Linked DNA regions of Homo sapiens. The protein of the gene in region 2 interacts with the protein of the main gene of each other region in a biochemical or structural test. Each region holds a gene or a part of one and is shown on either strand. Other genes may lie near its edges.

What was found. The genes of interacting proteins can lie anywhere in the genome.
Region 1: the proteins of GRID2IP (region 2) and TRPC5 interact in a test that uses a peptide from one of them, tested with the Homo sapiens proteins (one large-scale study listed by IntAct).
Region 3: the proteins of GRID2IP (region 2) and SLC15A2 interact in a test that uses a peptide from one of them, tested with the Homo sapiens proteins (one large-scale study listed by IntAct).
Region 4: the proteins of GRID2IP (region 2) and SLC6A3 interact in a test that uses a peptide from one of them, tested with the Homo sapiens proteins (one large-scale study listed by IntAct).

What each region holds. Positions count from the first base shown.
Region 1 is NC_000023.11:111,915,277-111,918,776, forward strand, and holds part of TRPC5 (short transient receptor potential channel 5), read right to left. Parts: intron 1-3,500. UniProt on the Homo sapiens protein: Forms a receptor-activated non-selective calcium permeant cation channel. Mediates calcium-dependent phosphatidylserine externalization and apoptosis in neurons via its association with PLSCR1.
Region 2 is NC_000007.14:6,544,962-6,548,461, forward strand, and holds part of GRID2IP (delphilin), read right to left. Parts: intron 1-3,500.
Region 3 is NC_000003.12:121,897,401-121,900,900, reverse strand, and holds part of SLC15A2 (solute carrier family 15 member 2), read right to left. Parts: coding exon 3,372-3,500; intron 1-3,371. UniProt on the Homo sapiens protein: Proton-coupled amino-acid transporter that transports oligopeptides of 2 to 4 amino acids with a preference for dipeptides. Transports neutral and anionic dipeptides with a proton to peptide stoichiometry of 2:1 or 3:1.
Region 4 is NC_000005.10:1,417,941-1,421,440, forward strand, and holds part of SLC6A3 (sodium-dependent dopamine transporter), read right to left. Parts: intron 2,764-3,500; coding exon 2,629-2,763; intron 1-2,628. UniProt on the Homo sapiens protein: Mediates sodium- and chloride-dependent transport of dopamine. Also mediates sodium- and chloride-dependent transport of norepinephrine (also known as noradrenaline). Regulator of light-dependent retinal hyaloid vessel regression, downstream of OPN5 signaling.

The DNA of each region.
Region 1 (3,500 bases), on a different chromosome or scaffold from region 2:
TGTCTAACAAGGAACTTTATTATTCTCCATTCGGCTTCCTGAGTACCTAACACCAGAGAGGAAACCTTTTAAAAAGAAAACTGGTCTACAGTGACCAACCTTGCCCTCCCGCCCAGACTGCTTTTTCTCCTCCTATCAGTGTTGTCACTCACAGGTTGCTTTCTGTGTGTATATCCTTGTGGATCCCCTGTGTGGAATGGTCTCTCGCCCCATTTCTCTGCCACTCAGGGGCCATTGCAAGTTCTGGCTTCTTCAATAGCTCCTCCTCTTAACTTTGAGCTTATCTCTTGCTGCCCGCTCAAATACTGTGGGCACAAGGTTACATGCAAGAAAATCACTTTTCTGATGCTGTCTTACATTATTCTCAAATTACTTCACACACGTACTTTTTGCCTCCTTGATAAGGTTATGAGCTCTTTGAAGGCAGAGTTGTCCTGGTCTGCTCTTGTTTCCCCTATGGCATCTAGCACAGTGCTAGACACACAGCAGGCACTCAGCAAAAATAAATTAAATTTCCTGTTTTCACATTAAGGAATTGACTCTCTTGGGCCAGGCGTGGTGGCTCATGCCTGTAATCCCAACACTTTGGGAGGCTGAGGTGAGAGGATCATCTGAGCCCAGGAGTTCAAGACCAGCCTGGGCAACATAGTGAGACTCTGTCTCTAAAAAACAAACAAACAAACAAACAAAAACATTATATTAGCTAGGTGTGATGGCAAGCACCTGTAGTCCCAGCTAGTAGGGAGGTTAAGATGGGAGGATTGCTTGAGCCTGGGAGGTCGAGGCTGCAGTGAGCTGTGATCATGCCACTGCACTCCATCCAGCCTGGGCAACAGAGTGATACCCTGTCTCCAATAAAAAAGTAAAGAAAAGAAAAGAGAAATTGACTCTATTGTTTATAAACCTGACTCCCACAATTTGGGTCAATATGAGCTAATTTCCTTGGACCTCTCCTTCCCATGTCCAGCTGAGAAGGCAGACATCCCAAGACTCCAAGAAGGGTTAGATGATTAGCTCTGCAGGGAACTACTACGAGGTCTCACAAACTTGGGACATTTCTGCCTGTATTTTTCACAATTCTATTGCTTCAAAGTGGGGACTGATCCATAGACTACGGGTTTCTTTTTATTCCTTCTACCCCTTCTGCTTTGTCCTCCTTCATCATCTTGCTGTTTTTATTCCTTCCCAGGCTGTGCAGAGACCACGGACTATCATCAGGACAGCCAAAGTAAAGGAAGAGAAAGTTCTATAATGAGGGTTAGAAGATTCTGATAATAATCTATCTAAAATGCAGGCCAAACAGGTAACAGAAATCAGGACCAGGTGTAGGTGTATACGCATAATTTGGGCGAGTGAATGATAGAAACTGGTAAACTGCAGAGACCCTCTCAAAGGGGGCAGCTACTACTCAGCTCCTGTAAATTGTCATAAACACAAGTGAGGAGCAGTGTTATAAATTTTTGAAAAGAAGCCGGAAACATGGATTTGGGGGTAGAAGCTCTTAAAGTTATAAACGTTGGCTCAAAAATTTTAAAGACAGTGTGCAGGCCAAGCAAAATACATATGTGAAACAAATTTGGCTCCAGTGAACCAGTTTGTGACCTTCGTGCTAGCACATAAGTTGTGAGACTAAAAAGAGATGGGAGAAGAAATTGGATATTTAGGCAAGGGCCAAATGATAAAAGGCCTCATATGCCATGCTAAGGAATTTATATGTTATCTGTTGACCACGGGGAACCACTGAGGGTTTTAATCAGGAGAGTGGCATAGTTGATTAGCTTGGCCACAGTGTGGGAAATGGGCAGTGGTAATCATGCTCATAAATGTTTAACAACCAGCTCTCCACAGGGGAGGAAAAAATATCCTGTTTTGTGTGTTTGCCAGTTTTTGTGGTGTAAATACTCCCACTGTGGCCAGTTTCATGCTACCAATATGACATCCTGGAACATGGAGTTGGGAAGAGGAGCAGATAACCCGCTCTCGCCAGCTGGTGCAAGCCAGCTCCAAGCACACCACCATGTGTTTCAGAATAAGACTAATTAAAAGATATCATCAGTTCAGGTGAATAGATGCAAGGATCTTAAATTAGATAGTGATTCTAGAGATAGATAAAAAATAACAAATTTAAGGCATTCATTGGATGTGTCAGGGAAGGCAGGGAGAAGAAATCAAGGGTATTGAGTCTCCATATTCCAATGCCTGGTTGAACAGTAGTGTCACTAATTGAGATAGTGCATACAGGAGCAGGTTTAAGGTTTTTAAAAGTTCAGTTTTGTGCTTGTTAACTTTGAAGTCCCTACTGGGAAAGCAGCAGGAAATTGTATAACTCCAGCATGAATCTTGAAGGAGAAGTCAGGGCTGAAAATATAGATGTGAGAGCCTTCAGCCAGCAATAGTAGTTGAAACCAAGAGTGGACAGGATCAGCCTCTGCCTGCCCTTGTTTCCTCACAAGTGGCTCCACCTATCTACTCCAAGGACTCTGTCCAGCCCCAGTTTCCAGGGCAACCAAGGCCTGAAATAAGAAGCACTCAGGAGGCCTGCCTCAGGTTCCATCATTCCAAATTCCTACTGTTGAGGCTTTTGCAATGGGACATTCTTGTTCTGTTAGTTTCTGAATTGCAGCTTCTTCTGCACCTGTGCCCTAGCTTTTAAAACAAGGCTTCACCCTTGTCTGAGTTTCTGGCCTAATATCCCAAGCCTCTTTAATGAAATGTGGCTGTGAAGAGATGAGGCTGCATCTTGAGCACCTTGATTAGATTGGGGGAGGACCCGGGGAGGAGGGAAGAGGCTGTAGACAAGGGAAAGAGGGGGCTTGTGGGTAGATCAGGGTGCCTGAAGAGATGAGGAGAGATGAGGTCCAGAGCAAAGGTTGGGGTGAGGTGGAGGTTGATCTTAGTCTGGAATAAGGATGCCTTATCCTCAGAGACTGGAGGAAAAAAGGTGAGTTGAATGGAGGTGTTAGTAGTTTGTTATTGAAGAGGGCTGGAAGCTGAAGTATTTCCCATCTAAAAATGCAGTTTTCTCATTGAAATGGGAGGTGAGATCAGATGCTTTGAGTGAGGGAGGAGAAGTTGGCAGGGTGTGTGGGGAGAGTTCAATGTATGGAAGATTTGCTAAGGGGAAAGAAAGAGGAAGACAAAGGAAAGTAAAAGGATGGCCTAGCAGTCCTGAAGTCTTGGGTAAATTAGCAGCTGTAAATTTATAATGGCAGTGATGCACAGAAGAATGTGGCTTTTTTTTTTCTCTCTAGCAGCTTTGACAGTCCAGATGTGGGGATGGAAAATTCAGGTTTTGGATAGATTCAGGATTGTGGTTTTGCCAGACGTGAGAAGAAGTTGAGGATGAAGTAGTTCAGGTGATTGCACTTGAAGACCAGATCAGATAGGTAAGGGCTAAAAGTCTGGGAGGAAATGGAGACATTGAGGGACTTGAGGTCTCTTTGAAGTGAAAAGACAGAGTAGGCAAACTGGGAGGATGGGAGACTGTGGACAGAGAGTAG
Region 2 (3,500 bases):
CTGTAGTCCCAGCTACTCGGGAGGCTGAGGCAGGAGAATGGTGTGAACCCGGGAGGCGGAGCTTGCAGTAAGCCGAGATCGCGCCACTGCACTCCAGCCTGGGTGACAGAGACAGACTCCATCTCAAAAGAAAAAAAAGAAAGAAAAGAAAAAGTAAAAAGTTAGCCAGATATGGTGGTGCACGCTTGTATTCCCAGCTACCAGATACTTGGGAGGCCGAGGTAGGAGGATCTCTTGTGCCCGGGAAATCAAGGCTGCAGTAAGCCATGATCACACCACTGAGCTCCAGCCTGGGTGACAGATCAAGACCCTGTCTCCATAAATAAATAAATAAAAGACAATCCTCCTTTGATCCTGAAAGCTGCTCATTCTCCTCCCTTCTGTAGTCTGGAGCCGTCTACACGTGCTGTTTCTGTACCACTGCCCTTTGCCACTGCAGTTCACTATTGCACTTGAGGCTCTCCACGACCCAGCTCTGGCGAAGAACCCCAGACAGTGACTCTCAGACCTCGATCTTCAGCCGAGAGCTCGCTCTTGAACTCTGGAACTGTATATCCACCCGCTTTCTAGATGATTCCAAAAGGGGAGGAGAAGTAGCGGGAAGCTTCGAGGGTTTCCAGTCAGAGGCCACGTTCTGTACACGTCTGAATCCTAGCACAGATGCACCATGAGTCTGTGTAACCGTCTGTCTCCCCCACCCAGGTGTGATGATCCGGGGTCTCATGCTTGTCCAGCCCCAAGCACAGCGCCTGGCACATATTAGGCACTCAGAGAATGTGGATGGGACTGAATCAAAAAGCAGCCTTGCATTGCACTTCCTGCAGGCCCCAGCTCACCACTGTTTCCCTCCCTGTGAGTGGGCCAGGCTGGCAGCACCAGCCGCCCCCTCCCCACGCACGCGCCGTGCTGGGGAAGGTTGCCAGTTTGGAAATCAAAGTCAGCAGCAACCTCAATTCAAAGGAGAACATGGCTGGCTGCAGAGATGTTTTATGTAAGAAAGAGGAAAAAATAGTTCCTCCCTCCTGGGGCCCGTGCTACAGTGCGGTTTCGGTGTCAGTTATTACCCAGATGTTCTCAGCCTACATCTAAGCATGAGGTATCATCACGGGACACTAATGGATTTTCTATTAAATATCAGCCACTTCAAGGAGGAAAAACTGGGGCAGGCAGAAAGCGCAGGCGAGAACTGGAGGGCTGGTGATTGAAAACCAACCAGTCTGGCGCAGTGGCTCATGCCTGTAATCCCAGCACTTTGGAAGGCAGAGGCAGGTGGATCACCTGAGGTCAGGAGTTTGCGACTAGCTTGACCAACATGGTGAAACCCCATCTCTACTTGAACTCCTGACCTCAGGTGACCTGCCTGCCTCGGCCTCCCAAAGTGCTGGGATTACAGGTGTGAGCCACCGTGCCCAGCCAAGCCACCAAGCCTGGCCTGTCTCTACTAAAAAAAATACAAAATTAGCCGGGCGTGGTGGTACATGCCTGTAATCCCAGCTTCTTGGGAGGCTGAGGCAGGAGAATTGCTTGAACCCAGGAGGCGGAGGTTGCAGTGAGCCAAGATCACGCCATTGCACTCCAGCCTGGGCAACAAGAGCGAAACTCTGTCTCAAAAAAAAAAAAAAAAAGATAGAAAACCAACTGGGCTCCACGGAGGCCCTTCATCTTCCAGAGGAAGTCATTTTTGGAGATTCACTCTCAGCTTTTGTGGGTGCCCAGCGAGCCCTAACCAAAATCCTCCACTTCCCCGTTCCTCCTTGCCAGAAAACACACTGCAGCTGGCCTGGGCAGCCTGTCGGATTCTACCCTCAGCGGGTTGCTGCCCAGCCCTGCTCCTGGGCAGGTCTTCTCTTGCATCCTGCCCTGTTTGGAGCTCTGAACGTGCCCCCTTCCAACTCTGCAGGGATTAGATGGAGTCTGGGATAGACCTTTGGCTCCATGGCAGGTGATCTGGGATTGTAGCAGGCATTACTCGCACTCACCAATATTTCTAGGTCTTCCCTCTTTCCTGGACACACATTAGACTACATTTCCCAGCATCCTTAGGGAGGAGCAGTGTACCTAGTTCTGCCCAATGAGCATTGAGGACAGGTGCTGTTCTAAGAGGAGATGCACAATTTTCCAAGCTCTCTTCCTCTTCCATAGGGAACCCTGAAGCTTCACATAGAGATGGAGGAGTCTGAAATGCTGAGACCTCGTATGGACATCAAGCCACCCTAGAAAGTCTACTGACCCCCTAGAGGACTCTGTGGGTGAAAAGTAAACTTCTGTAGTGCAAACGCACTAAGTTGTTGATTTTGGGTCAGGCACAGTGGCTCACACCTATAATCCCAGCACTTTGGGAGGCTGAGGCAGGAGAATTGCTTGAGGCCAGGAGTTTGAGACTAGCCTGGGCAACATAGCAAGACCTCATCTCCCCAGTCTTTTTTTTTTTTCTTAATCAGCCAGGTGTGGTGGTGCACACCTGTGGTCCCAGCTACTAGAGAGGCTGAGGCAGGAGGATCACTTGAGCCCAGGAGTTGGAGGCTGTAGTGAGCTATGATTGTACCACTGCACTCCAATCTGGGCAACAGAGCTAGACCCTGTCTCAAAAACAACAACAATAAAAAATGTTGGGTTTGTTTGTTATAGCAGCAGAGCCTGTTGTGGGTACAGGAAGAAAGTCACAGCTTTGGAAGATCTGGACTTTGGTGATGTAGGGAAGCTGGAGTTGAGTCCTGTGTGTATGCGAGTGTGTGTATCTGGCCACAGAGGCTGGTCTACTCAGGGTCAGAAAAGCCCATTCAGGGGATCAGGCTAGGGTACATGATGGAGGAGACACTCCTGAGGGGGTTAATTTGGAAGGGGTTAGGACTGGACCAAGCTTGGGCACTGAAGGAGGCCAGAGTGGGTGGGGACCTGATGCCTGGGCAGTGGGCTGGGAGGCATTTCTGCAATAGTCAAACTCCGACAAAGTTTCCAGGCTCCCTGACCTCCCAAACCCCATGGCCAAGTGCTGCTGGGGCAGAACTGAGCAGATTCCCTTCCACGGAGGAAAAGTCTGTGAGCTTGATAACACAACAGGGTGACTATAGCCAATAATAACTTAATTGTCCATTTTAAAATAACTTAGGCCAGGTGCAGTAGCTCACACCTGTAATTCCAGCACTTTTGGAAGGCCGAGGTAGGCAGATCTCCTGAGGTCAGGAGTTCAAGACCAGCCTGGACAACATAGTGAAACCGTGTCTCTACTATAAATACAAAAATTAGCCAGGCATGGTGGTGGGGGCCTGTAATCCCAGCTCCTTGGGAGGCTGAGCCAGGAGAATTGCTTAAACCCGGGAGGCGGAGGTTGCAGTGAGCCGAGATCGTACCACTGTATTCCCTGGGCAACAGAGCGAGACTCTGGCTCCAAAAAAAATAAATACAAACTTAAACGGTGTAGATGGATTGTTTATAACTCAAAAGATAAATGCTTGAGGGGATGGGTACCCCATTCTCCATGACATGCTTATTTCACATTG
Region 3 (3,500 bases), on a different chromosome or scaffold from region 2:
GATATCAGATTCATATATAAATAATTAAATAACTATAATAAGATAGAGTTTAGTAAATGTCATATAAGGGTGAGAAAACAAAGAACTCAGAAAACACTATATTACTTCCAGCTATAGTAAAAGGTGAGGGGGCAGAGAATACTCCATAGCATAGGTGGTATTTGAGTGAGCCTTACGGGGTTTGGACATGAAAGGGTGGGGAAGAAGGGGTTTCCATGAAGCAGAAACAATGCAAACAGACATGAAAAAGAGATGTCATTGGATATGATTACAGAAATATTAGTATTACATTTTCCTCTAGTGGCCATTCTCGAAAGGAGATAAGTATGACAGTAAGCACAGAAAAGTCAGTTGGAGTGAGATTAGTAGACAGTGATTTAATAGTCACCAGAAATTGCTGAGCAGAGTAGTAATGTGATCAGGATTTCTTTTAGGAAAATTAATTTGGCAGTAGCATATATGCTCAATTGTAGGAAAAAGAGATGGGAAGCAGTAAAAACATTTTAGATGTCCATTTTAATATCTCAATTTAAAGACATTGAGACAATGAAGACCAAAACTGGGTGATGGCAACTAATGCAGTGGATGTTGTGCTGAAAAGGGATAAATGTGAGAGAGATTGTGGCAAGCAGAATTGGTAGAATTTGATAACTGATTGAAGGTGGGAATGTAGAGAAGACAGAAGAAAGAACAGATTTGTGGAGGTGAATGCCAATATGTAATTCACTGGAATTTGAGGAGCCATCTGCATATAGCTAATATCCACACCACAGAATTTGCTAAGGAAGAATCTAGAGAAAGAGAAGAGGGTAAAAGTTATAACCTGGGAAAATGCTTACACTCAGGAAAGAGTGAAGTAAACAAGAGGCAAAAGAGAAGCCAGATAAGTAAGAAAAGATATAAGAGGACGAGAGTGAGAAAAATATACTGTAGAGAAGGCCAGGGAGTTTCACAGAAATGATAAACAGACTGAAATGTTAACAACAAGTTCAAAATGAGTAAGAATTTAGAAAAGACCACTGGAATTTGCTAATGAAGAAATTCTTACCAGTGATCTTAGGGAGTAATTTCAGAAGGAAAAAAGATGATTTACAGTATATCTTATTGTACTACAATATGATCTGTATTAAAGCTATTTGAATATGAACAATATGAATTAGGTAGTATGTGTAATTCACCTCTTCATCCTCCATGGTTCCTTGGACAAACAGAAGGTGCTCAATAAACATTTATTGAATTAAATTGGGTCAAATCAAATTAAATTGAATTGGATTATATTGCATTATATTATATTACTCTACCATAAGAACTGATAATGAAGAGTGAGAAAGGCAACACATACAGAGGATTATTTTTATAATATGGGGTTAATGTAAAAGGAGAAAAATGATAGGAAAAGAGAGTCAAGATGAGTTTTGTTCATTTAAAGCTATTAAAGATTTGCTCCTGCTTCTAGTTGAAGGAAAAGACTCTGGTTCTCTGGGAGAATTTGAAGGCAAGAGAGGGGAATAGTGAGGGTACAGAGACCCTAGGGAGAGTGATCTAGGTGATGGTGATACATACATAAAAACTGATCAAGGTGTACAGTTAAGGCTTTTGAATTTGTGTACTTTATGTAAGTTATATCCCAATAAAAATAAATTAAAAACAATAATAAATACATCAAGAAGGATTGATTTGAGAGCACAAGTAGAGGTTGTTAAATTTTCTCTGAATTAACCAGGAAACAATTGCTCACCAAATCCTGTAACTGTACTTCTTCAATCTTAAAGGAAGTTATTTTTAAAATAAATAAAAGTGGTATGTCATGTATATGAATCTTTATTCTACAACTGAATAAATAGATTATGGCTTGCACTTTTTATTCTGCAAGTAGTGCCAATCTCCTATCTAGATAAACTTGGTGACTACTACTACATATGTAGCAAATGTAGATCTCAGCTACTCACCCACCATTCCTCTCCCAAGTCAAGAAACTGTTCAGTACTGTGTTATGTCTATAGATATATATTAGGTGCTGATTAAACACTTATAGAATAATGAACATATATCGGCCAAAGTAAGCTATAAACCATTGTTTACTAAAGAGAATTCCTTGGAACACTGGGTCCACAAAATATCCAGAAAAAATATTCCATAGTCAAACTGGTTTGGGAAACACTACATACTACAACCTTCTATGGAGATTTTATAGTTCATATTAGCGTATTTAAGGCTATAAGAAGTCATGCAGTAAGGGAACATTTTTAGCTTTGCTCAGCCTAACAGTTTCCAAACTTGTTTGACCACAAGAGCTTTATTTTCCCACATAACTTATTATATTTTATAGTTTTGAACAGAATGCCCTTTGAGAAATGCTCATTTAGACAAATCTATGGATGACAGGTCCATAGAAAATAATTGGGCAGGGGATAACCACGATCCATTTCTAAGCTTATCAGTTTAATGTTATAGGGGACAATTATAACATTATACCATGTTATATCTCTTGGTGCTGTGTTCAGGGACTTAAAAGATACTGAACTGAATGAACCAATAGTCTAACTCATGAAAATATTAGATTCATAAGAAGGAAACTACAAAAGACATTAGAGAAGAGAAATAGATGGTAAAAGAGCTGAAAAGAGACACTCATAAGAAGATCCTAAAGGAGGTGGGATAACTCAATCTGGAGAAGAGATGGAGAAAGTATCAAATAACTACATAAAAGCATCAAAATTTCAATTTTTTTTTTTTTTTGAGACAGAGTCTTTTTCTGTTGCCCAGGCTGGAGTGCAGTGGCATGATCTTGGCTCACTGCAACCTCTGCCTCCCATATTCAAGCAACTCTCCTGCCTCAGCCTCCCAAGTAGCTGGGATTACAGGTGCCCGCCACCATGCCTGGCCAATTTTTGTATTTTTAGTAGAGACGGGGTTTCACCATGTTAGCCAGGCTAGTCTCAAACTCCTCACCTCAGGCAATCTGCCCGCCTCGGCCTCCCAAAGTGCTGGGATTACAGGCGTGAGCCACCGCACCTGGCTAAAATTAGAAATTTGCTGGTGGATAGTGCTGTCTATCTCCAACAAGATCAGAGCAAGATTTAATATTAAACTATGGAATGGAAGGTTAAAATTAGTTTTAAGGAACAAAAGATACCGCAACTGAAGAGGATGTAAACACATTGGAAAAATTGATAATGAAAAGAATAGCCTTTCCTTGTTACCACAGAGATTCTTTTTTTTTAAATTTCCCACACTACACAGATGTACAGAGATTCTTATTTTTCACGCATGACATAGGTATGTTCTTACTCAGAAGCAAGAGGCTAGAAGTGATAGCCTTCTGCACAACCTGTGAAACTTGTAGGGATGTGACCTCCCATCTTCCTTACTTGAATTTTCCCAACCACGAGTCAGCAATGGCTGCTCCCAGGATGGGAGTAAAATAACAGAGGCTGCTGAAGGCATGGTATATAGATGTGGAGGTATCTTCATTCCAGTGCAGGAAATACAGGAAATAC
Region 4 (3,500 bases), on a different chromosome or scaffold from region 2:
CCCTCTGTCCTTTGGGCAGCATGTCAGAGCCTCAAGGCAACCCCAGTTCCTGGGACAGTGTGTTTGGAGGCAGATGGCCAGGCCCCGCAGTCAGGACTCTGCAGGTGGCCAGTGTTTCAGCATGAGGGGAGGAGCCAAGCCGAGAGTGGCTGGGTGGGCAGTGGGTGGAGAGGCTCATACCCTGATGTGGCTCCCATGCTGGTCATCAGCCACCTGCCTGGCCAGGTAGCTGCAGGCTGGATCAGGTGTCACAGGGGAGCGCCTGCCTCCTCCTCACCCTGATCTGTGTGTGCAGCTCAGGCCTCTGCCCAGTGCCACACCAGAGCCAGTGCCCATGGCTGCCTCCCTGGGCCTCACCTCATGCACTTTCACTCCAGGACCTGCAATTGTCCTTTCCTTCCATTTCTTTCCTGATTTCTCTTCACTATACATCAATCCATCATCTATTATCTATCAATCAATCATCTATCTATCTATCATCTATCACTGTCATCTATCAATCCATCACCAATCTATCATCTATCTGTCATCTCTATAATCTATCAACTGTCTATCATCTATGAATATATGAAGTACATGTGTGTGTATGTATCTATCTCCATCCATCCTATTGTATATCCATCCTATCTACCTACCTATCATCCATCCATCCACCCATCCATCATCCATCCATCCACCCATCCATCATCGATCCATCCATCCATGCTATCCAGCTACCTATCATTCATCCATCCACCCATCTGTCCATCATCCACCAATCCACCCATCATCCATCCATCCATCCATCCACCCACCCATCCATCATCCATCCATCCATCCATGCTGTCCAGCTACCTACCTATCATTCATCCATCCACCCAAACATCCATCATCCAGCAATCCACCCATCATCCATCCACCCACCCGTCATCCATCCATTATCCATCCATCCATCCATCCTATCTAGCTACCTACCTATCATTCATCCACCCATTCACCCATCCATCATCCATTCATCATCCATCCATCCATCCATCCATGCTATCCAGCTACCTACCTATCATTCATCCATCCACCCAGCCATCCATCATCCAGCAATCCACCCATCATCCATCCACCCATCCATCCCATCCATCATCCATCCATTATCCATCTGTCCATCCTATCTAGCTACCTATCATTCATCCACCCATTCACCCATGCATCATCCATTCATCCATCCATCCATCCATCCATCATCCATCCATCCATACTATCCAGCTACCTACCTATCATCCATTCCTCCATCCACCCATCCATTATCCATACATCCAGCCAGCCAGCCTTCCATCCACCCATCCTATCTATCCATTCTATCTACCCACCTATCATCCATCCATCCTATCCACCTACTTACCTAGCATTCATCCATCCATCCATCCATCCATCCATCCATCCATCCATCCATCCAATCTATTCACTGTCTCCACCTAATTTCTGACATCTCATCTTTGTAATTTGTTCTCCAGTGAGCATCTTTTCACATGCACTGGTGTTTGTTTTGCCTCCTCCTGGGGCTGCCTATTCTTCCTAGCTGGAGCACTAGGCTCTACGTTGTCCTTGTGGTATTTTTCTTTGATTCTGTAACATGCCATGGTCCTGCAAACACACCCCTTGGCTTCATTTTGGCCTTTCTGGGGTCCAGACGCCCTGCTGACTTCATGGTTTGTCTGGCTCCAGCTCTGCACTTGTGGGCCCCCGGCCACAGCTGATTTTGCTGCCCTGGTTGTCCTCCTCTCTCTTCCTTGGCTCCCGTGGGCCACACGCCTGCTGCACCCATGGCTCCTGTCTCCACAGGGCTTCCCCTTCAGTGCTGCAGGCACACTTCCACCCCCACCCCCACCCAACTGCTTTGCAGCCTCATAGGTGCCATGTCCAGGTGCCCTCTCTCACTGCACCTGTCAGCTGCTGCCTCCCTGGGGCTTCCTGGGAGGCTTGCAGCCATGCCCGCCCATCCCTTCTCCCCTTCCTTCCCACTTCTGCCTTGGGTTTACACTTGCCTCATGACCCCCAGACCTGGCTCCACCGGCCCACCCACACAGGGCAGCACCTCTCAACGGCCTCCTGCCTCATACCCCAGCTGAGATGGCCCTTCCCCTCTTGCTGCATTGTCCTCCCACAGCAACATGGATGCCCCTGGGCGGCTTTGGGGCCTGCCACCTCCCCCACTTAGTCCACCTGATTTCCAACGATGCCCCAAGGGAGCTGCCATTTTTGTCATGCCAGCCTTCCGCCAACAGCTGCTTCTGTTTCTGGGCCTGTTTGCCAGGAAGGGTGCAGCCCTTTCTCCTCCCTTTCTGGACAAGGGTCCCATCCCCCATGGCCCAGCTGAGTCTCCTCTCTCCGGGAGGCTTTCTCCAAATATTTTAACCCTGAATTATGTCTTCTTTTGCTGACCAAAGCTGCAGCCTGAGTCTAGATGGAGTTTCTGATGTAATTTGATTTAGATGACTCGTGCTGTATCACAGGTACTTGGGATTTGGCTTCCCGAGGAAAGAACCCTGGTGTCTGCAACTCTGACACCTCTCAGCCCTGGCAGGCAATGCATATGGAAACCTGGGAATGCCAGAGCCCCTGTGGACTGTGAAGCAGTGAGCAGACTGTACTCACAGACGCCTCGCAGAGCCGGTAGAAGTCAACGCTCAGGTATGCTCTGATGCCGTCTATGGCTCCAGGGAGGGTGACCCCACGCAGGAGCAGGGCAGTGAGGACCACGTATGGCATGGTGGCTGTGATCCATACCACCTGCAGGAGAGGACAGTGTCACCAGGCTGCACAGGCAGGGCCCTTGGTGGGAGCAGACACTGGCACAAGGGCACCGGGTTGCCCTGACGGCTTGTCCTCTGATTGGGAGGCCCAATTCCCAAACATTTCCTGGGACGCCAGCTCAGCAAATGCTCCTTGGAGTGAGAAGGTCAGACACTTTCTGTCCTGCACACCCTCCCCAGGGATGGAAAGGGAAGAACAACTTGGCAGGGAAAGCACATTCCTTTTCTGCATTCGGTCCGCCAGAGTAGCTGGGAGTGGCTGATGGGGGTTTTCTGATGCGTGGGACGTGAGTGGATTCACACTGGTGAACGGCACTGTGGCACGATGAAGGGCTGCTCTGGGCTGTGTCCCTGCGGGAGGCTCCCGTGGCTGGTGCCATACTACACGCACTTTTCCAAGGGAGGAGTCGTATCTTGGTCAAAACTGGTTTTGGCCCATATAACAACCAAAGTTTTTTTTTTTTTTTTGAGATGGAGTTTTGCTCTTTTTGCCCAGGCTGGAGTGCAGTGGCATGATCTTGGCTCACTGCAACCTCCGCCTCCTGGGTTCAAGCAATTCTCCTGCCTCAGCCTCCCACGTAGCTGGGATTATAGGCACGTGCCACCGTGCCTGGCTAATTTCGTATTTTTAGTAGAGATGGGGTTTCATCATGTTGGCCAGGCTGTTCTTGAACCCCTGACCTCAGGTGATCTGCCCGTCTCAGCCTCCCAAAG